2 separate regions of the Homo sapiens genome follow, and region 2 is linked to region 1. The links come from fine-mapping of genetic effects on gene expression. A gene starts in region 1. The other region holds a variant in brackets. All regions are shown on one strand. Distances are from middle to middle.

Region 1 (8,160 bases):
CTCCACCTCCTGGATTCAAGCGATTCTCTGGCTTCAGCCTCCTGAGTGGCTGGGATTACAGGCACGTGCCACCATGCCCGGCTAATGTTTTTGTGTTTTTAGTAGAGACTGGGTTTCACCATATTGGTCAGGCTAGTCTTGAACTCCTGACCTCAGGTGATCCACCTGCCTTGGCCTCCCAAAGTGCTGAGATTACAGGTGTAAGTCACCACGCCCGGCCTAAACTGGGATTTGTACACCTGGTTTGGTTTTAAGGTTTTCAGTTTTTGGTCTTTTTGCTTTTTGAAACAGTCTCACTCTGTCACACAGGCTGGCTGGAGTGCAGTTGTACAATCATAGCTCACTGCAGCCTTTAAATCCTGGACTCAAGTGATCCTCCCACTGAAGCCTCAGAGTAGCTGGGACTACAGGCATGCACCAGCACCCTGGCTAATTTTTTAAATTTTTTTTTTGAGACGAGGTCTGGCTCTGTCACCCAGGCTCCTGGGCTCAAGCAGTTCTCCCACTTCAGCCACCCGAGTAGCTGGGACTACAGGCGCACACCATCACGCCTGGCTAATTTTTGTATTTTTTGTAGACGGGGTTTCGCCCTCTTGTCCAGGCTGGTCTCGAACTCCTGAGCTCAAGCAATCTGCTCACCTTGGCCTCCCAAAGTGCTGGGATTACAGGTATGACCCACTGCCCCAGTCTATTTTTTTTATTTTTTGTAGAGACAGGGTCTCTCTATGTTGCCCAGGCTGGTCTTGAAATCCTGAACTCAAGCCATACTGTCACCTCGGCCTTCTAAAGTGCTGGGATTACGGGCATGAGCCACTGTGTCTAGATTTGGTTTGGTTTTAGGATCCCTCTAACTTGCTGTGTGATGAGTGAATTCCTTTCGGAAGGCTCCAGTTTTCTCCTGTCCCCCTTTCTGGGCTGCTGCTGTCGAGATGTTCAGGGCAGACTCAAGTCGCCAAGATGGTCCTTTGATAAATCTCATGGTGTGGAGTGGAGCCAGGTCATGGGGAGACACTGGGGGAGCAGGGCAGCCTCTCTCCCCTTCCAGACTCTGCACTTAGGCTGGCTCCCCTGTGTCCCTGTCTCCAGTCTCTCCTGGCTTCAGCTGTGTGACTTTGAGTAAGTCACTTAACCTCTCTGAGCCTCAGCATCCTCAGGTGTAAAATACACTGGGTCCTGCTTCCTCTCTGGGCTTCCTTCTCTTCCCTCCCCTTCTCTGGGCTCCCCTGACCCCCAGCTTCATCCTCACCTGTGTGTCCACCCACTTGGCACCCTGGCTGGTGTGCTCCACATGGCCGTAGAAGTGCACAGGTAGCGTGAACTCGGGCCGGGCCTTCTCCCAGGGGTTGCCGTAGCGAAGCCAGTCATCGGCCTCCTCCATCTGCACCCAAGGCAGGTCAGGGAGAAAGGCCAGCAGTATCAGTACAGGCACTCACAGTGCACGGTGGGGCAGGGTGGGGGCCGTGGGCCGGTGTACCCTACACCAAGTATAAGTCAGGAGCTCTGAGGTGGGCCCCTGGTCTGCTGGGCTATCGAGTGGGACACGGACCACCTGTTTCAGGGGCACCAGCTGGCTTTGGGTCGGGGGGTGGGGAGCAGCAAGGATGCTTTCCACAGAGCTTGCGGGGCTGTTTCGGACCTTGCCAGAGATGATAAACAAGTGGGGGTCTTCCCCATCCTGACTAGACCCCACAAGTTAGAGCCAAGGCTGCTCACCTGCCAGCCCCCGGAGATCTTCTGGTTAAAAATCCCAAACTCATAGCGAATCCCGTAGCCATAGGCGGCCAGGCCCAGTGTTGCCATGGAGTCAAGAAAGCAGGCTGGGGGTGTGCAGGGAGGTGGCTGTCAGGGACCCAGCAAGGAGGACCCCATCGGCCCACTCCACCCTCACGGCCCTGTCTTCTTACCTGCCAGCCGGCCCAGGCCCCCGTTGCCCAGCCCCGCATCCTCCTCAATTTCCTCCAGCTCCTCCATGTCCAGGCCCAGCTGGAGGAGTGAGGGTGACAGTGGTCAGGGTCAAGTGTCAGCAGTGGAATCCCCCAGTCCCCACGGCTTGCCCCACCCCACACACACCTGGTAGGTGGCCTCGTCACAGGCATTCTCTAAGGCCAGGTTCACCATGGTGTTCTGTAGCGTCCGTCCCATATAGAACTCTAAAGACAGGTAGTAGATCCTCTGCCCAGAGAGACGGATGGGCAGGGAATGGGGTCAGGGCCACACACCAACACTCAGCCAGGCCCAGCCACGCCTGGACCTCTGGCCCGCCTGCCCTGCTCAGCAGTCCCATCCCTGTCCCCAATTTGTTTCTCCCTGTCTCAGGCTTTGGGGCCCAGCGGTTAAGGTTCTGGTCCCAGCATTCCTCTGACTTTGGACAAATCACTCTCTTTGGCCTCAGTCTCCTCATCTGGGAAATAGCGCTGGCCATACCCACTTCAGGGACTGAGGTACTCGGGAGAATGGGCACCCCTTCCCCCTGCACACACCCCCAGAGAAAAAAGTCATTTGCTCAAGGTCACACAGTGGCTAGAGACTGGGCTAGAGACTGTCACCTCCCATCCTTGCACTGTCCAGTTCCCCTTGGCCCTCAAGCCTCAATCCCAAGGAGACCCAGAGGCACCAGAAACTAGGATGCTGCCAGTGCCTGGTCTCCCAGTTTCCTGGGTCCCCTCCTGGGCCGTCTGCCCGCCCCTCCCCCACTCCCCACCGAGGCGTGTCAGGTTGCTGACATTTACCAGTGACCCCACCGGACACTTGATCTCTGCCGCCCCAGCTGCCCCAGCCCCGCCTGCTGCACAGGCACACCGCGCATACATGCAGCAACTGATGTGTCCTTCCACCTGGGCCCAGCCAGGCCACAGGCGCCGTCCTGCCCACCAGCACCCACTCCAACCTTCTCCGAGTGGGCACTGACCCTTTGCAGCCAGCCCACCTGCTCTGAGCTCCCTGACCCCCACTCCTGCCCCAGGTTTCTCCCTCAGATTGTCCCAGCACCCCTTGTGCCTGGCACCCCTGGATTCTCCACCCCCAAGAACCTAGAGTGACGAGGGGCAGCCACTTAAGTCAAGATCGCCAGCTCCCTGGCAGCGCCTTCAGCCCATACCCCCACCCCAGGCTCCCCAGCAGCACCTTGGGGTCCTTCTCATAGTAGTGCTGCTGCGTGCGGATCCAGCGCCCCACGAGGTGGTCGCGCACGGTATGGGCCAGAGCAAAGTAGTAGTCTCGTGGGGTGGCCACATTGCGGTCCTTTACGAGTGTGAAATGCAGGTGCCGGTTGAAGTTCTTTTTCAGCTCAGTCACGTTCTCCACGCCGGCCAGGCCACGCACACTGATTTGCTTTCTTTTCTCTTGGTCTGACAGGGGCCGGGACATGGCTGCAGGAGGGCGGGCCGGACTGGACTGATGGTAGAGGGGACGGCGGCCTCAGCACTGCCTCCAGCCAAGGAGTGGAGCTCCCCAGCCTCAAGGGGATTTAAAGCCTGGCTCTGGGCAGCACGCCCCGCCTCCCCTGCAATGGGAGGGTCTTGGCCTGGCAGCTCAGGGAGCTATTTTGAGGGCAAGGGGAGGAGAGGAGAGGGGAGGGAGAGGTGAGCTCCACTTGGGCCGCCAAGACTGGCCTGGCTTGTTCACAGGCCTGTGCTGACCCACTTCCTCCAGGCCTTGCACATGGTCTTCTGTCCCTTGTCCCTGCCTTTTGGAGGGTTGGATACAAGAAGGAGCAGGCAGAGTGCTGGATTGGGGAGCTGTCTGTCAGTGGCTGAACCAGGATGGGAGGCCATGTGTTGTGGCAAAAGGAACCAGGACCCCCTGCAGGCTGTGGTGCAGGAGCCAAGTCAGTGTCCCCTGACGGAAGAGGTGCAACTAGCAGAGGCCACTGGATGTCTTTGAGAAAGGGGCCCACGACCCTGCATTGCAGGGGTGGTGTGAGGGAGGTTGTGTGAGGCAGGGCCACAGCCCTCACTCCACCCCCACCGAAGCTGAGCAGCTCTAGGCTCCCCCTGTTGCTGTCCCTCAAGGAGCCCTGAAGTGACCTTTTGGAGAGGGATGCTCAGGTTACTGGCCAGCATTGGCGGGAGGCCGCTAGCCTGCAGCACGGGGCCCTGGGAACTGTAGTCCTATAGGCCCTCGGCGGTGGGAGAAACTGAGGCATTCCCCACTCCATCATCATACTGGTTTAATGACAGTAAGTTCTCCCTGTGATTCCACTGCTTAGGAAGTGATTAGAGGCCTTCTTTCACTTCTTCCTGCCACCTGGGGCCACACTCTGAGCAGGATTTTGTAAACCAGCTCTGTGACCTGGCCTATAAAATGGGTGCCTAATCTGTACCTCGAGGACCTCACCCCATTTGTGTGCATAGCCCCACAGCTTTGAGCCCTTCCCTGGAGGCTTTGGCTATCCTCCCATTCACTGCTGTGTTCTGGCCCCAGCACTGACTTGCTGTGTGACCTCAAGCTGGTTGCTTTACCTTTCTGAGCTTTGGATTCCTTCACCAAATTTAGACTCTCCAATGAGAAAAAAAAAAATCCCTGCCTCTCAGCTGCTGCCTCCTCATCTTGTGAGGGCAGGCTTCGGATCCTGCTGTTCTTTAAGAGAAAGGAACCAGGACCTTGTGCTAGTTCAAAGGCTGTTTGGGCCTCCCGGGTGGTGGGCCGGTGGAGGGGAAGAGCTGGGTGTTCTGTTCTGAAGGCCAAGGAAGCAGGTCAAAAGCCTGGACAGCTGCAGGATACTATTGAGAGCCTGGTTCGGAGAAAGCCAAGCTGTTTCTGAGAACTTTTTTTTTTTTTTTTTTGAGGTAGAGTTTCATTCTTGTCGCCCAGGCTAGAGTGCAATGGCATGATCTCAGCTCACTGCAACCTCCGCCTCCTGGGCTCAAGCAATTCTGCCTCAGCCTCCTGAGTAGCTGGGATTACAGGCACCCACCACCATGCCCAGCTAAGTTTTGTATTTTTAGTAGAGACGGGGTTTCACCATGTTGGACCAGGCTGGTCTGGAACTCCTGACCTGAGGTGATCCGCCCACCTTGGCCTCCCAAAATGCTGGGATTACAGGCATGAGCCACAGCGCCCGGCCTCCGATCACTTTCTGAGCCATGGCAGACCCAGCCCTGGAATCACCGGCTTAGTATGTGGGCCAAACTTCAAGTCCTACAGAGGTCTCCAGGCTCCCAAGCCCTGCTCTACCCCTGCCCCCAAAAGGCACGGGCACACTGTCTTCTGTGGTGCCTGCCACATTTCCAAGTAGAGAAAAAAGATCGGGAAAAAAACACCAAAATACACCTCCACAGACACGGGGATGCAAACAACTTTTCCTTACATTTTTCTGTTAATTTCCAATTTCTCTTAAGAAGTGTTTCATAAACCATTAAAAAACAATGCTGGCCGGGCGCGGTGGCTCACGCCTGTAATCCTAGCACTTTGAGGCCGAGGTGGGTGGATCACCTGAGGTCAGGAGTTCGAGACCAGCCTGATCAACATGGCGAAACCCCGTCTCTACTAAAAATACAAATATTAGCCAAGCATGGTGGCACATGCCTGTAATCCTAGCTACTCGGGAGGCTGAGGCAGGAGAATCACTTGAGCCCGGGAGGCAGAGGTTGCAGTGAGCCGAGATCACGCCACTGCACACCAGCCTGGGCGACACAGCGAGACTCTGTCTCAAAAACAAACAAAAAAACAATGCTGGCAGCTGTCTGGTCTCTTCCCCTTTCACAGTTTGCACCCCAGCCTCAGCTCCTGGGCCTCATCCCCATCCTCCACTAAGCACAGCTTGGACTCCAGCTTGGCCTGGCATCCAAGGTTCTTCACAGCCCGCACTTGTCCCTTGGAGGGTTGCTGTGAGTAGAGCTGAGACTTCTTGGCAGTCCACTGCCAGGCAGGCAGTAGCTTGTTAACCATGCCGTCACCTCACAGCCCAATCGTGGCAGCCTGCTTTGGCCACACACACCTTCTTTGCATTGACCCCTATTTCCTGCAAGACTTTATGTTCCTGCCACTGAGGACCCGATCCCCATAGACCATCCACATCTTACAGGCAGGGAAGGCCAAGTTCATTCCATCCTTTCCCAGCTACTCTCCCCTCTTGCACCCAGGGCGCTTGCTCTCAGGAACATTTTTACTGGGAAATTTTTAACTTTCTCCAACTACCTTTTCTGTGGCTTCTTTCCGTCTTTGTCATGCCATCACTCCCCACTGTTTCCAGGCTTTGTCCCGGGGTGACACTGCATGCCCCAGCCCAGCATGATCACACCTGGGCAGCACGATCTCATCTGTTTCCCTGCTTCCTCCGCCCCTCCTTGGTGTTGTGTATGCAGGTTTAATGAACCCTGAAGCACTTTTACAACCTGAACTCACTCGAGGTTATTTATGTCTAAGTTTCTAACTAGAAACCCGGCCTCCTTCCTTGGACCAATCCTGGGTTTCTCCAGAGCCCTTGGCTGAACCTCAGTAACAGAGCCCTGAGGCTGACCTTTCCCCACTGGCATTCCTCTTGCCAGGCCTTGCCAGGCCTTGAGGGACGGGGACAGTGCTGCTACAGCAGCAGAAATGAACGTGAGGAGAGGGGGTGGGGCAAGCACAGCCCTGTCACAATGTGATGGAGTAAATGGCTTGCTTTCCCACCCCAGGTGTCTTAAGACAGGTGGGCAGGCCTTTCTCTCTCTGATTCTGCCAGAGGCAAGTGCTTGCCACGGTTCAGAGGGCCAAGCCTTCCTGCTGTCTCTTCCATTTCAGGGCCTCTAGCACCTTGGAGACTGATGCCTTAGTCAGCCACTTCCTCTCCAAAACCTTAACAAAAGCTGACGGCAGGGAGCAGAAAGGGAGGGAGCACAGGAATGGAGCTGGCCTGGGGGAGAGAAGCGGAGGAGATAGCTAAGCTGTGGTTAAGTCATTTATTGATTTTATTTCTAAAACCCACATAGCGCCACTTTGCCGCTTCCAGAGCTTCAAAGAGCTAATTAACCACCCAATGAGCCCACCAGGGAAACCAAGCTTGTGGGAGAAGCAATGAGGTGAAGCCAAGGTCAAAGAGGGTAGCCAGGCCCCAGGCCCTGCCCCCATTCTGCCACTTAAGGACAAAGGCAAAAAAGATGTCCTCCTTTTGGTGAGCCGAAGTTTAGGGCTTGGCTGGGGAAACGCACTGAGCCTGCCTTGCTTCTGAGGGCTCCTCAAGCCTGGCAGACCCATAGCAAAGCACAGGCCTCCTGGACGGGGGACCAGACACCCCAGTAAACAGCAGTAGCCAGCCCTAGCTCACAGCTGGAAAGCAGCCCAGGCCAGTTGCTGGCCCCAGCAGCCAGATGCTGGGGGAGCCTACTGTCCCTCAGCCGCCCTGAAGGAAGGAGAGGCAGGTGGAACCAGGGCAGCTCTAAGGCACCTCTGCCCAGGAGAGGACCTCACTACCTGGTGGAGACTCCACATGGATTTTTCTGGAACCCTAACAGTAACTACCCACTCGCCGCCCAAGACATGGAAAAAAAGCAGAAGACCCTTTGAAAAGTGCTTGCAAAGCACAAGATGGGGCACTTTATCCTGTCCCCCCGACCCCCGCCAAAGCCTACAGCGCTGGCAGGCTGCAAGTCACCAGCAGAGAAGGAAAAAAGCCACTTGGCGGTTTTAATTTTAGCTGCTCTGTGCCTGACAGGCAGGATTAGTTGGCTTGACCTTTAGTGTTGATGCCTCCCCAGGCCCAGGGCCTTAGGTGGCAGCTTCCAGGCACAAATCACCACTGGAGCTCATCAAACGTGGACGTCTGAGCCCCAGGAAAAAGCCTTCAAAGGACAGAGACTAGAAAAATGAGCAGTGAACAAGGAGGGGCAAAATTGGTTCTCAGCGATGTTAACTAGTCACCAAAGGGGAGACTGTGGAGCCACCCACACACTGAGCTCCCACCACCAAAGCCACACACAGGAGGCAGGTGGTGGGCTTCCCTAATTAACCACCCACAGTCTCACCCCCCCGGACCTGGTGCTGAACGAAAGTTAAGGCACCTTTGGTGCTGCTGCTGCTGCTGGTGGTAGAGGAAGTTTATGTGAAAAGAAAAACCGGGCGGGGCAGGCATTAAAAAGAAAATAAAGAAGCAGACCCAGAAAACCACACTGCTCTTTTATTCAATGGAACATCCCCGCTTTAGCGCAGTGTTGAATCTAACACCGAAAAAAGCCCAGAGAA
Region 2 (14,347 bases), 28 kb after region 1:
AACTTAATCTCCATCCAGGCGCGGTGGCTCCAACACTTTGGGAGGCCGAGGTGGGTGGATCACCTGAGGTCAGGAGTTCGAGACCAGCCTGGCCAACATGAATCTCCTGCCTCAGCCTCCCAAGTAGTTGGGATTACAGGTGCCGCCACTATGCCTGGCTAATTTTTTGTATTTTTAATAGAGACAGGGTTTCACCATGTTGGCCAGGCTGGTCTCGAACTCCTTACCTCAGGTGATCCACCCACCTTGGCCTCCCAAACTGCTGGGATTATAGGCGTGAGCCACCGTGCCCAGCCAGAAATCTCTATTCTTTATAAATTACCCAGACTGGGTGTGGTGGCTAATGCCTGTAATCCCAGCACTTTGAGAGTCTGAGGTGGGAGGATCTCTTGAGCTCAGAAGTTTGTGACCAGCCTGGGCAACATCTACTAAAAAAATAAAAAATAAAAAAAAAATGCTGGTCATGGTGGTCCATGTCTATAGTCCCAGCTACACAAGAGGCTGAAGCAGGAGGATTACTTGAGCCCAGGAGATCAAGGCTGCAATGAGCTATGATCACGCCACTGCAATCCAGCCTGAGCAACAGAGCAAGACCCTGTCTCAAATAAATAAATTACCCAGTCTCAGGGATTCTGTTATAGCAGTACCACCTTAGACTGTGCTGAGTTTGTGCGACTGAGACTAGCTAATTTATTTACCAGTATTTAGACACTGCCTATAAGGGAAATACAAATTAAGGTGATAATGAGGAATCTCAAAATAAATGAAAATAGCAGAACATAAATGTGCTAACACCTACTATCGTTAATCTTTTAGAAAGCATTCTGTTGTCTATTAAAATTGTTCCCCCTTTCAAAAAATAAAAAAATATGCACCTGTACTCACAGCTACTTGTGAAGCTGAGGTGGGAGGATCCCTTGAGCCCAGGAGGTAAAGGCAGAAGTGAGCTGTGATTGGGCGACAGAGTGAGACTCTGTCTCAAAAGAAAGAAAACATAAACCCTTTCGATCCAATATCCCACTCCTGGGAATCTGCCCCCAAACAAGCCATGTGATTATATAATGTTTTCAAAGTCTTCTGCATTTACTGCAGCATTGTTTGTAGTGGTAAAAATGGGCAAACAGAGTGAATTTCCATCAATATATGAACGACTGAATTGGAAAACCCATAACCTAGAATATTAGGCAGCTTTGAAAAGCTGTTAATTCATACCAACCAACCTAAAGTAACTACTGTTCTGTGTTAACAAAGAAATACATATGACATGGCTTTGTTTTTGTAACACAAACCCCATACAGATGTGTGCATGTTTGCATATGATTATCTGAGCATAACAAAGGCTACAGAAGGATACACAGCACATGCTCTATTGCAGAGTGAAATGGGCGGCTGGAAGTTGCCCAACACATCTTAAACATCCAACTTTTTTTTTTTTTTTTCTTATGAGATGGAGTCTTGCTCTGTCACCCAGACCAGAGTGCAGTGGCATGATCTTGGCTCACTGCAACCTCCTCCTCCTGGGTTCAAGCGATTCTCGTGACTCAGCCTCCAGAGTAGCTCGGATTACAGGCATGCGCCACCATGCTTGGCTAATTTTTGTATTTTTAGTAGAGACGGGGTTTCACCATGTTGGCCAGGCTGGTCTCAAACTCCTGATCTCAAGTGATTCGCCCGCCTCAGCCTCCCAAAGTGCTGGGATTACAGGCGTGAGCCACCAAACCCAGCCTAAAAATCCAAAGTTAAAAAAAAAATGCTTCATACGCTTAACAAATGTATTACATGATTCCATTTTTGCAACATTATATAACTATAGGCATTGAGAAATGCACCAAGGGCTGGGTGCAGTGGCTCACACTTGTAATCTCAGCACTTTGGGAAGGCAAGGCAGGAGGATTGCTTGAGGCCAGGAGTTCGAAACCAGCCTGGGCAACATAGGGAGAATGTCTCTACAGAAACAAAAATAATAATAATCAGCTGAGCGTGATGTGTGCCTGTAGTTCCAGCTACTTGGGAGGCTGAGGCAGGAGGATTGTTTGACCCCAAAGAGTTTGAGGCTGCAATAAGCTGTGATCACACCACTGCACTGAAGCCTGAGTGACAGAGGGAGACCCTGTCTCAAAAAAAAAAAAAAAAAAAAAAAAAAAAGGCTGGGTGCGGTGGCTCACACCTGTAATCCCAGCACTTTGGGAGGCCGAGGCAGGCAGATCATGAGGTCAGGAGATTGAGACCATCCTGGCTAACACGGTGAAACCCCATCTCTACTAAAAATACAAAAAAAAAAATAGCTGAGTGTGGTGGCAGGTGCCTGTAGTCCCAGCTACTCAGGAGGCTGAGGCAGGAGAATGGCGTGAACCCGGGAGGCAGAGCTTGCAGTGAGCTGAGATCACGCCACTGTACTCCAGCCTGGGCAACAGAGCGAGACTCCGTCTCAAAAAATAAAAAATAAAAAATACATTGAGGTGGCTCACATCTATAATCCCAACTACTCAGAAGGCTGAAGTGGGATCACTCAAGGCCAGGAATTCAAGACCAGCCTGGGCAACATGGGTAGACCTCTGTCTCTACAAAAAATAAAAAATTAGTTGGGTATGGTAGTGTGAGCCTGTAGTCTCAGCTACTCATGAGGACTGAGGTGGGAGGATGGCTTGAGCCCCAGAGGCAGGGGTGGCAGTGAGTGGAGGTGACACCACTGCACTCCAGCCTGGGTGACAGAATGAGAACCCATCTCAAAAAACAAAAAAAGGCTGGGCACAGTATTTCACACCTGTAATCGCAACACTTTTGGAGGCCAAGGCAGGCAGATCACTTGAGACCAGGAGTTCAAAACCAGCCTGTCCAACATGGAGAAACCCCATCTCTACTAAAAAGACAAAAATTAGCCGGGTGTACTGGTGCACACCTGAAGTCCTAGCTACTCAGGAGGCTGAGGCAGGAGAATCACCTGAACCCGTGAGGCAGAGGTTGCAGTGAGCCGAGATCGCATCACTGCACTCCAGTCAGGGCAACAGAGCAAGACTCCAATCTCAAAAGAAAAAGAAAAACAGAAAAAGATGCGGCCGGGCGCAGTGGCTCACACCTGTAATCCCAGCACTTTGGGAGGCCGAGGCAGGCAGATCACCTGAGGTCAGGAGTTCAAGACCAGTCTGCCCAACATGGCAAAACCCCATCTCTACTCAAAATACAAAAATTAGCCAGGCATGCCTGTAATCCCAGCTACTCAGGCGGCTGAGGCAGGAAAATCACTTGAACCCAGGAAGGCGGAGGTTGTAGTGAGCCAAGATCAGGCCACTGCACTCCAGCCTAGGTGACAGAGTGAGACTCCGTCTCAAAAAAAAAAAAAAAAATTAAACGACACTTAACTGTGAGTCAGCCCTTCCACTCCAAACTATTTACCCACAAGAAATGATAGAATATATCCAACAAAGACAGGTACATGAATGTTTATAGCAGCTTTATTTGTAATAGTTCACAACGGAACATGGTCCAAATGTCCATCAACAGGTGAACAGCTAACCAAACTGGTGCATCCAAACAATGGAATACTACTTGGCAATAAAAAGGAATAAAATATTAATGCATGCAACAGGGATGACTCGCAAATCCTTATGCTCAGCTAAGCAAGAAGCCAGACAAAACACAAGTACATACTGTGTGATTCTATTTACATACATTCTAGAAAGTGCAGATTAACCTGTAGTGACAGAAAGCAGCACAGTTGTTACTTGGGGATGGGAGGCAAGAAGCAGGAGGGTGGGCTTACCAAGGGCATGGGAAACTTTCCAGAGTGAAGGGGATGGTGATTATCTTGATTGTGGAAATAGCTTCACGGGTGTACACGTATGTCAAAAGTCATCACGTACACATTTTTATATGCAGCTTATTGTATGCCAATTATGCCTCAATAAAACTGTCTTTCAACAATACACACTAGAAGGCAGCAACTGCAAAGTGGCAATTCCAGAGTTCTGTGCAGGACGCTGCAGTGATTCCGCCCCACTTGTTTTCACCATCTAGGGAAACGTCCTCTTCGTTTTTGGTCTTGTCTTTCAAGCGAGTTCTATTTTTTCGGTGATTACTTTTAAATATTTTTTAAAAATTTTTTTCCTTTTTTTTTTTTTCTTTTTGAGACAGGTTCTCACTCTGTCACCCAGGCTGGAGTGCAGTGGCAAGTTCATAGCTCACTGCAGCCTTGAACTCCTAGGCTCAAGCAATCCTCCCACCTTAGCCTCCAGAGTAGCTGGGACTGCAGGCGAGTGCCACCATGTCCAGCTAATTTGTGTATCTTTTGTAGAGACAGGGTTTTGTCATGTTGCCCAGGCTGGTCTAGAACTCCTGGGTTCAAGTGATCTGCCTGCCTCAGTTTCCCAAAGTGCTGGGATTACAGACATGAACCACCATGCCCAAACTAAAATTTTATGACATAATATTTGATACATACAAAAGGATGTGTGGCACCTTATGTGAGTTAGGAACTGAGTTATAACTTAAATACCCATGAACCTACCACCAAACCTGAGAGCTAAGATATTACCAATACCTTTAAAAATTCCTGGGCTCCTTCCTTATCCCATCCCACACTCCTCTCAGGGACGACCATCTCAGATTTTGTGCTTTTCCTTCCCATGATTTTTTAATAGGGTTGTATCTTGGGCATGTATTGCTAAACAATAGATGGTTTCATTTTGTTTTTGAGCTTTATAATATGCTATCGTACTGTGCATAAAGTGCTGTTTTAATTTACCTCTAAGAGTCATCTATGTTATTGCATTATGTCTGTTACAGTATTTCTGATCCTCCTGACAGCCCTGCAGTTGGCTTTGGATATGGTAAACCTAAGGAAAGTAAAGCTCAGCGAGCTGGGGTGGCTCACCCAGTCCAAGGGCAGATTGCAGGGACTCCTCTTCACCACATCTTGTCCATTCCCTTACTCGTGAGGGTCTCCTGAGCACTGGTAGTGAGCAGGTGCTGGACATGCCACAGGGAACACGGCAGATCCTCCGCCGTCCCGAAGCACACATCATGGTGCTCCCCTTGACTTTCACCAGGATGACTCCGGGTATGGGCCAGTTACCTGAACATCCTGGGGGGGCCCACGTCCCTTCTACTTGTCCTCAAGAATGACTTAAAGAGTCTGGTCTGACCCTCCCACAGGTTTCTGCCCATGGAGGGGCAACTGGACAGCAGCTATCACCACGGCATATGTAGCCACCGCTAACTCATTAATGCTGCTTCCAGGAACTTATCTTCTAGAAGTGCTTGAATATGTACAGAGGGGCACTAGCCTAATAATATTTATTGCAGCATTGTTTGTAATATAAAAGTAGTAAAAACAACTCAAATTTCCACCAATAGGGATCTCACTGCAGGTCATTAACATTTGTTATGGGAAACATACACAATGGAATACCACTAGCTGTAAAAAAAAAAAAATTTTTTTTTAAAGGGAGATCTTTAACGCAAAACTCTCCAGGATATATACATATCTTTTCAGGGTGCATGTGATAATTTAATACATTCATATTCTCCAGGATATATATATATTTTTTTCTCTTTTTTTTTTTTTTGAGACGGAGTCTTGCACTGTCGCCCAGGCTGGAGTGCAGTGGCATGTTCTAGGCTCACTGCAACCTCCGCCTCCCAGGTTCAAGCGATTCTCCTGCCTCAGCCTCCCGAGTAGCTGGGATTACAGGCACTCGCCACCATGCCCAGCTAATTTTTTGTATTTTTAGTAGAGACGGGGTTTCACCATGTTGGCCAGGCTGGTCTCGAACCCCTGACCTCGTGATTCGCCCGCCTCGGCCTCCCAAAGTGCTTGGATTACAGGTGTGAGCCACCACACCTGGCCCCCCAGGATATATTTTTAAAGGGCAAGGTCAGTACAGTATGTGGAATATGTTAATACGTATATAAAAAATCGCCAAGAATAAAATATACCAAATTGCTTAAATACGCAAAATACTTCTAGAAGGGTTCATAAGTAACTGAGACCAGGGTGGCTGGGGACGGGGTAAGAGGGAGACTTCATTATATCTCTGCTGTATTTAAAAAAATATGTACCATGGGCAAAGGTTACGCATTTAAAAATACATAAATAAAATTTAAAGTGTTAGTCTCTCAGTGCATATTCCCTGGTTTCTCGGCCTTTCTTTGCTCTTGGCCTGCCTTTGCTGGCAGCAAGCGTTTTATGGGAGGCCCCCACTTTGGCAGTTTACACTCTGCAGTCCAAACCCCGTTTCCAGACTGAATCTGAGGTCCGGGAAGATCCGCCACAAGGAGGCACTGTCTGCTGCTGGCCGGTTGGTGAACGGAAAGCCAGTCCTCCCCAGGGCGCCTTTGGTCAGGGCCTTTGCTGAGCAGGAGCTCACCTCCCTGTCCCCACTTACCCCACCCTGGTCCCAACATTCCTCCGAGAAATCTGGAAAATTGGAAGTTAGGAATTCACTTTGTATCCCTGTTACCACCGACCCCAATTTGGAAGGTGCCCCTCACCCTCCTTGGGGCTCACGGGAACATGGGTGTGAATGCCTGGTGTGAAGAGATGTGTTCCCTCCCCTGGGCTGGCTCCCCATTCCAGCCAAGAAACCCTCCCAGTCACTGGACAGAGTCAGAACAGTTGAAACTCTGCTGGAGGGTGGCTGAGGGGACAGTGTGACACCCTGGGAACCACTGAGCCTACTCGCATGGCTGCCATCCACCTACCACGTCACTCCGCAAGTCTTTATTGCCACCCACCAGGTGCAAAGGTCTTCCTCCAACACCTGCCTTGAATGTAGGGGTGACCATGGGGCCTTTGCTCCAGCTGTTCCCCCCACCCTGCCCCCACCTTCCCAGCCCCCCAGCTGTGGGCCCTCAAGGCAGTTCCCATCCTGCCTCCTGGGCTGCAGCTGCCCAAAGGCTCCAGTCAAGAGCGGCTGATCAGTGCCTGGGGCAAAAGAGGATGCCCAGCCCTGGGGGCCCTGGCATTCAGAGCTGAGCAGACAGACCCTTGGAGAATGACAGCGTAAGCACAAGCTACAGGAGAATGGCCATGCCCTCAAGATGCAGGCTCCAGCAAGGAGGACGCCCTCCCTGGGGGCTGGTCTGTTTCTGGTAGTGACCCCAGGGCCTGGCACTGAGGCAGCCCTTGGGAGTCTGGTAGACGGACACAGGCTAGCCTTCCCATCCAATCTGATGATCGTGCTGTCATCTGATGTTCCTGGTCTAACACCTAGGCAGTAGGTGGAGGCAGGGGATACAGGTCACACAGGCTACCTCCATGGGCAGCAGCCTCCATGGGAATGGAGGGAACAGCCCTCTGGGGGCTCCTCCTGGGCCCTTCCAGGGGTCACCCAGTGAGATCCTACGTGGGGCAAGGGTGCCCTGGATGAGAGTCCCTTTGTTGAGGTCCCCCCATCTGCATGAGTCCTTGGGGTGCTAAACTACAGCAGAGCCCTCAAACTGCAAAGCTGAGGGTCAGTTCTGAGCAAGGATGCAGGGGAAGGCACAGTGCCCCTAGAAGGCTGCTGGGGGCCATGGCCTCCTGTCACCTCTACCTGGCTTCTCCAAAACCCTGGGGGCCCTGCCCTTCTGTGGTGCCCACAGAAACGTGTGTTGGAGGGAAGGAGGCGGGAGATGAGGTGGGTTCACTCCCCCTACCCAGAGGGACCAGAGGACTAAAACAAACCAGCTTTAATACCAATATAGTTCTCTCTTAAATACCGTGTTTCCCAGGACAAATGCAGGGGCAGGCTCTTGGCAGAAAGAGTAGAAAGGAAATGTGGAACAAAATGGAATGGATGGCCCAGGCCCAGGGTCCCTGCCTTGGGCACTAGGGACTGGGCTGCCTCGGGGATGGGGGAGTGACAGCAGCTCCCCCTGGTCCAGTTATTGCAGAGGCGTCGGGGGCTCCCCTCCCTCCCCAGGCCTGAAACATTTCTCAGGATTACTTCTGACCTTCAGCCCCAGCAGGGCCAGGGCCTGGGCTCCTCTGGTCTAGGATGGGCCCCTTTGCCCAAAAGGGCCTGCAGCTAAGGCGTGGGGTGGGGCGGGGAGCCCCTGGACAGGCCCGCTGCTCTTAGTAGGTGCTCTGGTGGCCCGTGAGGATGTAGAGGTTGCTGTGCGCCTCTGGGTTGTCAGTGGGAATGCTCTCCAGGATGATGTCTCTGGAGGAGAGAGGAGTAGGGGGCAGGGCGGGAGACACTTGGTACATCAGCCCCTTCTCTGGCCTCAGGGGCATCTGAAGGGGAGGCTAGGGTACCACCGCCTACCTGTGGGCCCCAAGCACTCGGAAGATCCTTGTTTCATCTGTGATCTCCTGGGTCACCTGGGAAGACAGGTGGGAAGCACTGAGGCCACTCCAGTAGGTCCTTTCCAAAGAGGTAGGGACCACAAGGCAGGGGACAGCAAGGTCCCTGGGCCCCACTCACCTCATTGGTATCCAGGCTTCGGCCTTGCATCCCATGGCTCCAGAAGGCCAGCACACTGTCCTGCAGGCACACTATGGGGGCCAGGCCACCATCAGCCCTGCACCCATCTTGGCACCCCCTCAGCCACGCCTGAGCCTGGGTCTGGGCCACAGGGGTCCTCACTGACCTCAGGTGACCAGGATGGCTCAGGAGAGGGGCTAGGGGATCTGCCTCCTCATCCTACCGCCAGCCCCAGGCCCCTGAGCAACAACGTGCTCCAGGCCAGGGAAAGGCCTGCACCCCACCTCTGGCTCACTCACCCACAGTCTCGATGGGGAAATCAAAGGTCAGCTCAGGTGCCAGTGTGGCCGTGGGCTCGCCCTGCATGTTGACAATCCTCACACAGCCTGCACAGGGAAGGAATTGGTGAGTGGGGACGGGGAGGCTCCCTTCTGGGAAGGCAGACCCACGTGGTCGCCTTACCTCCATAGTCCCCTGCCCTAAGCCCTGCCCCCAGGGCACTCACGTTCAAAGCTGACTAGGATTGTGTCCCTGTCCACCTGGATCACCTGCTGGGCCGAGCCTGGGATCCCCTCTGCAGGCAGAGAAGAGAGACATGGCCTGGCTGAGCCACCAGTCCCCCAACCCCAAGAGGATACGGGGGCCAGGCTACAGACAGCCCTTGGCCATGAGGGCACGTCAGCCTCACAACAGCCCTGTGGGGCTGGGAAACCTCATCTCCCTCCAGGGCTGGGAACTGAGGCTCTGAGAGGATGAGTGACCCGTCCTAGGGCTCATGGGGAGTGGAGGAGGAGTCACGGGGAGCCACGGGAGGGCTCCAGGTTTAAGGGGACCAGGCCTCGTGACCCAGTCACTGTGTGACCTGGTACAAATCACTTTACCTCTCGGAGCCTCTGTTTCCTCATAACACAGACAAGATGGCACTGCCTTGAGAGGCTATCATGAGGATCAGGAATAAAATCCTGGGCTGGGCGCAGTGGCTCACACCTGTAATCCCAGCACTGTGGGAGGCCGAAGCGGGTGGATCACCTGAGATCAGGTGTTGGAGACCAGCCTGGCCAACATGGCGAAACCCCATTTCTACTAATAATACAAAACGTAGCCGGACGTGGTGGCACATGCTTGTAATCCCAGCTACTCGGGAGGCTGAGGCAAGAGAATAGCTTGAACCCACGAGGCAGAGGTTGCAGTGAGCCGAGATCGTGCCATTGCACTCCAGCCTGGGCAACAGAGCAAGACTCTGTCTCAAAAAATAAAAAAATAAATAAAGAATAAAATCCTGTGTGTGAGACCCCTGGCTCAGGGCCTGGCACCAGGTGCCTTAACTACGTGCGCCCTCCTTTCTCCCTTACCCATCACTGCTCATTATCACCCCAAGCTGCCACAACACCTGGAGTCCTGCTTCCTGGCTGAGAATGGGGCCTCTAGGCCCTGCCTTGCCAGATCTGCCTCTTCCCTGCAGCCCGGAGCAATGTTGACCAGTTTTTGTTTTTGTTTTTGTTTTTTGTTTTGAGATAGGGTCTCACTCTGTCACCCAGGCTGGAGTGCAGTGGCGCGAACATGGCTCACAACTGCCTCTGTCTCCCAGGCTCAAGTGATCCTCCCACCTCAGCCCAAGTAGCTGGGACTACACACGTGCATCAACATGCCCAGCTAATTTTTTGTAGAGTCAGGGTCTCGCCATGTTGTCCAGGCTGGTCTCAAACTCATGAGCTCAAGCCCCTCTCTCTCCTTGGCCTCCCAAAATGCTGGGATTACAGGCGTGAGCCACTGTGCCCGGCCTGGCCAGGATTTTCTTAGCTGCCAAGCCCTTCCGTCTAATGAACCCTTTTATGGAAGCCCAGGTGAAGCTTGTTGAAGGGAGGCTGTGGGCCCCAGACCCCACATGGCAGCCCTCAAGGTCTCTGTGGAGCCACTGGCTGTGGGGAGCCTAGTTTGGGAGCCTTGGCCCTCCCTGCCTCCCTCCCTCGGTCTCTCATGCACACACACCCACCCCCAGCAGCCTGGCCCTTCTGCTCACCAGGTGGGATGAGGATGTCGGGCGTCAGGCCAGCCTCCAGGGGCAGGACATGGAACAGGACGCGGCAGCCGGGCCCCTCAGGCCCCTCGGCCCCAACACACACCTGCGGCAGCTCCTTCCCATCCAGCACCAGCGGCTCCAGCATCCCAGCTGGGCTGGGCAGAGGGCTGGAGAAGTTCTAGGGGGCAGCAGGGATGCTCAGGTCTCCATTTCTCCCCCCAGAGCTCTGAGGGTGCCCTGGGCCTCCCCCCACCGCCCCTCACCTTCAGCAGCAGAAACTTCTGCAGCGGCTCATACCACTGCAGCAGGAGCAGGCTGGTGGGCAGGGCGGCCAGCAGGAAGGTGGCACCCGTGTAGGGGTTCCGCACTGGCAGGGGAGCAGGCAGTGGGCACCGGGCTGGGCCTGCGCTGCCCCCCACCAGGCCCCGCCCCACCCCGCCCAGCCCATTTCTTACCCACACGACACTGCAAGCAGCCTTTGGTGTCAGGAATCTTGGTGGACAGAGCAAAGCGCCTG[T/C]AGGGGTGATAACCAGGGCCTGTGTCTGGGATGCCATCCATGGGCAAGGCCCCTGCAGAGCCCTATGAGGTGGGCACTATCAGCTTCCCTCTTTACAAGTAAGGGACTGAGACTCAGAGACACAGAGTAACTTGCCCCAAGAACAGCTGGGAAAGGTGGAGGATCTGAAGCCAGTCTCCCAGCCCTGAAGCCAGGAGGGAGTGTCTCCATCCAGGCCAGGGGTTTGGGTCTCAGGATTGCTTCTAGCTCTGTGTGACTCCAGGCAAGCCACTTAATCTCTCCATGCCTCAGTTTCGTCATCTGTAGATTGGGGATAATGGCGGGCCCCACCCCAGAGAGTCACAGTGAAGGCTTCATGAGTTAATACAGGGGAGGTGCTCTCGGCAGTGCTGGGAATCGTGTGTGCTCACAGAGGGCCAGCTCCTATCATCCCATATTAGGACTTTCCACCTATTTTGAGTCACTGAAAGTCCTTGTCAGGTAAAGGCAGGGTATAAAGAAAGAAATGATGCCAGGTGCAACGGCTCACGCCTGTAATCCCAGCACTCTGGGAGGTCGAGGTAGGCAGATCACCCGAGGTCGGGAGTTCGAGACCAGCCTGACCAACATAGAGAAACCCTGTCTCTACTAAAAATACAAAATTAGCCAGGCGTGGTGGCGCGTGCCTGTAATCCCAGCTACTTGGGAGGCTGAGGCAGGAGAATTGCTTGAACCCAGGAGGCGGAGGTTGCAGTGAGCCGAGATTGTGCCATCGGACTCCAGCCCGGGCAATGAGAGTGAAACTCGGTCTCAAAAAAAAAGAAAAAGAAAAAAGGAATGAAGAAATGAGAGCATGGAGGGGCTGGGGAGGATGCAGGCTCCAGCCCCACCAGGTTGCACAGACTGCACACGGCCCATTTCACAGATGGGAAAACAGGCCCGGGGCAGTGAATGAACTTCAAAAGGCAAATGGCCTGCCCTCTGCTTCTCCAGCAGAGGCAACAGCCCTGTGGGGCCAGGGGGTGGCTTGCCTTGCTGTCGGGGTAGAAGTAGTGAGGAAAAGTTATCAGAGGGGCCGTTGCCTTGGCCACTGAGTGTCCCCTAACCCTCCAGGGGACCCTCTCAGCCTGTTTCTTCCTCTGGGGAATGGGGCTTCCTGTCAGCAGCCCTGCCACCTCCACCCAGTGGCCCATGTCCTGTTTGTACCTTCTGCCAGGACATGGAGGAAGCCAATGTCTGTCTCTCACTGTCCCTGGTCCTCGTCCCTCCCTCTCCCCACATTCCTCCCACTCTCCTCCCCATCTGGTCTTTGGATGGGACAAAAGCATATATTTTGTATTTGTTTTTTCTCCAAACAACTCCAGTTCTCTGTTCTTTGCATTCAAAGTGCTCACTGTGCCTCTGCCATTTCCCGAACACAAGCTCAAAGCTGCCTGTGACCTGTTGGGGCTCTGATGGGCCTGTTTCCTGTAGGTCCTGCGCCAAAGCAGACTCACTTGGGGACTGAGCTCAGGAAGCCCCAAGGCCACCGGGCTCCAGATGTGGTCCTGGAGTGAGCACGTTGCAGGAAGGGGGCTCCTGAGCTCCCCAGCTGTTGCAGCCACTGGCCTGGCCTCCCCTACCCTCTGCACTCAGTCCACTGCTTCCCACACCACCCACCTGGTCATGACAATGTCGGGGGCCCATAGCCCAGGGCCCCTCCCTTCAGAGCCCAGCCCCACCAAGCCATGGACTGACGCAGGTCCCACTTGCACATCTAATAAGCATGTTCATGCAACAAAATTGAATTCAGCTCCCCCTGAAACTGCTCCACCTTCAGCTGATGACAGCTGCATTCTTCCTGACACCCAGGCCAAAAACCTTGGAGCCATCCTTGACTCCTCTTTCTCTTTCATCAGGAAATCCTACTGGCTCAACTTGCAAAAGAGAATCAGAATCTGACTGTTTTTCTCTTCTGTTTTTCTTTTTTTTTTGAGACGGAGTCTTGCTCTGTTGCCCAGGCTGGAGTGCAATGGTGCGATCTCGGCTCATTGCAACCTCCGCCTCCCAGGTTCAAGCTATTCTCCTGCCTCAGCCTCCCGAGTAGCTGGGATTACAGGCGCCCGCCACCATGCCCGGCTAATTTTTGTATTTTTACTAGGGACGGGGTTTCGCCATGTTGACCAGGCTGGTCTCGAACTCCTGACTCAGTTGATCCACTCGCCAAAGCCTCCCAAAGTGCGGGATTACAGGCGTGAGCCACTGTGCCTGGCCCCCAGGCAAACTCTTAACAGCTCCCCAGCTCACCAGGCTGCTCCGCCCCAACACATACTAACATATACTTGCTCTTCCCCCTGCCTGGAGTGCCATTCCCTACCTCACCTGCCTAGAAACCCTGACACACTTTCGAACCTCCCAAGCTTGCCCGGTCTCTGAGGCCTCTCCACACCTCCCAGCTCTCCCTCTAACTGGACCTCAGTACCGGCTGCTAACTGTCCACATTTCCCTTTTTCTTTTTTTTGAGACAAGGTCTTGCTCTGTTGCCCAGGCTTCAATGCAGTGGTACGATCGCGATCACAGTTCACTTCAACCTCAACCTCCTGGGTTCAAGCAATCCTCCCACCTCAGCCTCCTGAGTGGCTGGGACCACCAACACACAACGCCATGCCTACATCACCATGCTCAGCTAAGTTTTCGATTTTTTTTTTTTTTTTTTTTGAGATGCAGTCTCACTCTGTCGCCCTGGCTGGAGTGCAGTGGTGCAATCTCCACTCACTGCAACCTCTGCCTCTAGGGTTCAAGTGATTCTTCTGCCTCAGCCTCCCGAGTAGCTGGGACTACAGGTGCGCACCACTACACCCAGCTAATTTTTGTATTTTCAGTAGAGACGGGGTTTCACCATATTAGCCAGGCTGGTCGTAAACTCCTGACCTCATGATCCGCCCACCTCGGCCTCTCAAAGTGCTAGGATTATAGGCCTGAGCCACTGCGCCTGGCCCCATTTTTTGATTTTTTGGGCTTTTTTTCTTTCTTTTTTGAGACAGACTCTTGCTGTCGGCCAGGCTGGAGTGCAGTGGCGTGATCCCGGCTCACTGCAACCTCTGCCTCTCAGGTTCAAGCGATTCTCCTGTCTCAGCCTCCCGAGTAGCTGGGACTACAGGCATGTGCCACCACGCCCGGCTAATTTTTTTTGTATTTTTAGTACAGACGGGGTTTCACTATGTTAGCCAGGATAGTCTCCATCTCCTGACCTCGTGATCCATCCGCCTTGGCCTCCCAAAGTGCTGGGATTACAGGCGTGAGCCCCCCCGCCCAGACTTTTTTGATTTTTTGTAGAGACAAGGTCTCCCTGTGTTTTCAGGCTGATTTCAAACACATGGCCTCACACAATCCTTCTGCCTCGGATTACAGGATTGGGATTACAGGCATGAACCACCACACCCAGCC

Direction of the effects. Alleles are on the strand shown, and positions count from the first base shown. SD is a standard deviation of normalised expression in the study named.
For the expression in hippocampus of the gene that starts at base 3,442 in region 1, C is the low allele of the variant in region 2 and T is the other (small effect, 0.24 SD a copy in GTEx).

Evidence for each region. PIP is the estimated chance that this variant, and not a neighbour inherited with it, causes the effect.
Region 2: its variant is fine-mapped to the expression of PYGM in hippocampus (GTEx, PIP 0.95).

Annotation. Positions count from the first base shown.
Region 1 is chr11:64,756,533-64,764,692 of GRCh38, forward strand. PYGM (glycogen phosphorylase, muscle associated) reads right to left here and starts at 3,442. Exons shown (of 20, transcript NM_005609.4): 1 at 3,124-3,442; 2 at 2,071-2,172; 3 at 1,905-1,983; 4 at 1,714-1,817; 5 at 1,247-1,378. The coding sequence starts at 3,366. It overlaps SF1 (splicing factor 1), which reads right to left. Exons shown (of 13, transcript NM_004630.4): 13 at 8,074-8,160. RefSeq lists enhancers at 1,443-2,147, 2,148-2,851, 2,852-3,556, 3,557-4,259, 5,596-5,645 and 5 more.
Region 2 is chr11:64,781,484-64,795,830 of GRCh38, forward strand. It overlaps MAP4K2 (mitogen-activated protein kinase kinase kinase kinase 2), which reads right to left. Exons shown (of 32, transcript NM_004579.5): 25 at 10,881-10,939; 26 at 10,689-10,792; 27 at 10,426-10,603; 28 at 8,911-8,979; 29 at 8,705-8,791; 30 at 8,406-8,476; 31 at 8,247-8,302; 32 at 3,435-8,141. The coding sequence ends at 8,054. Among named protein-coding and RNA genes, the nearest start is that of SF1, 10 kb to the left of the region's middle. RefSeq lists an enhancer at 8,526-9,027. The variant T/C (reference allele first, on the strand shown) is at 10,943.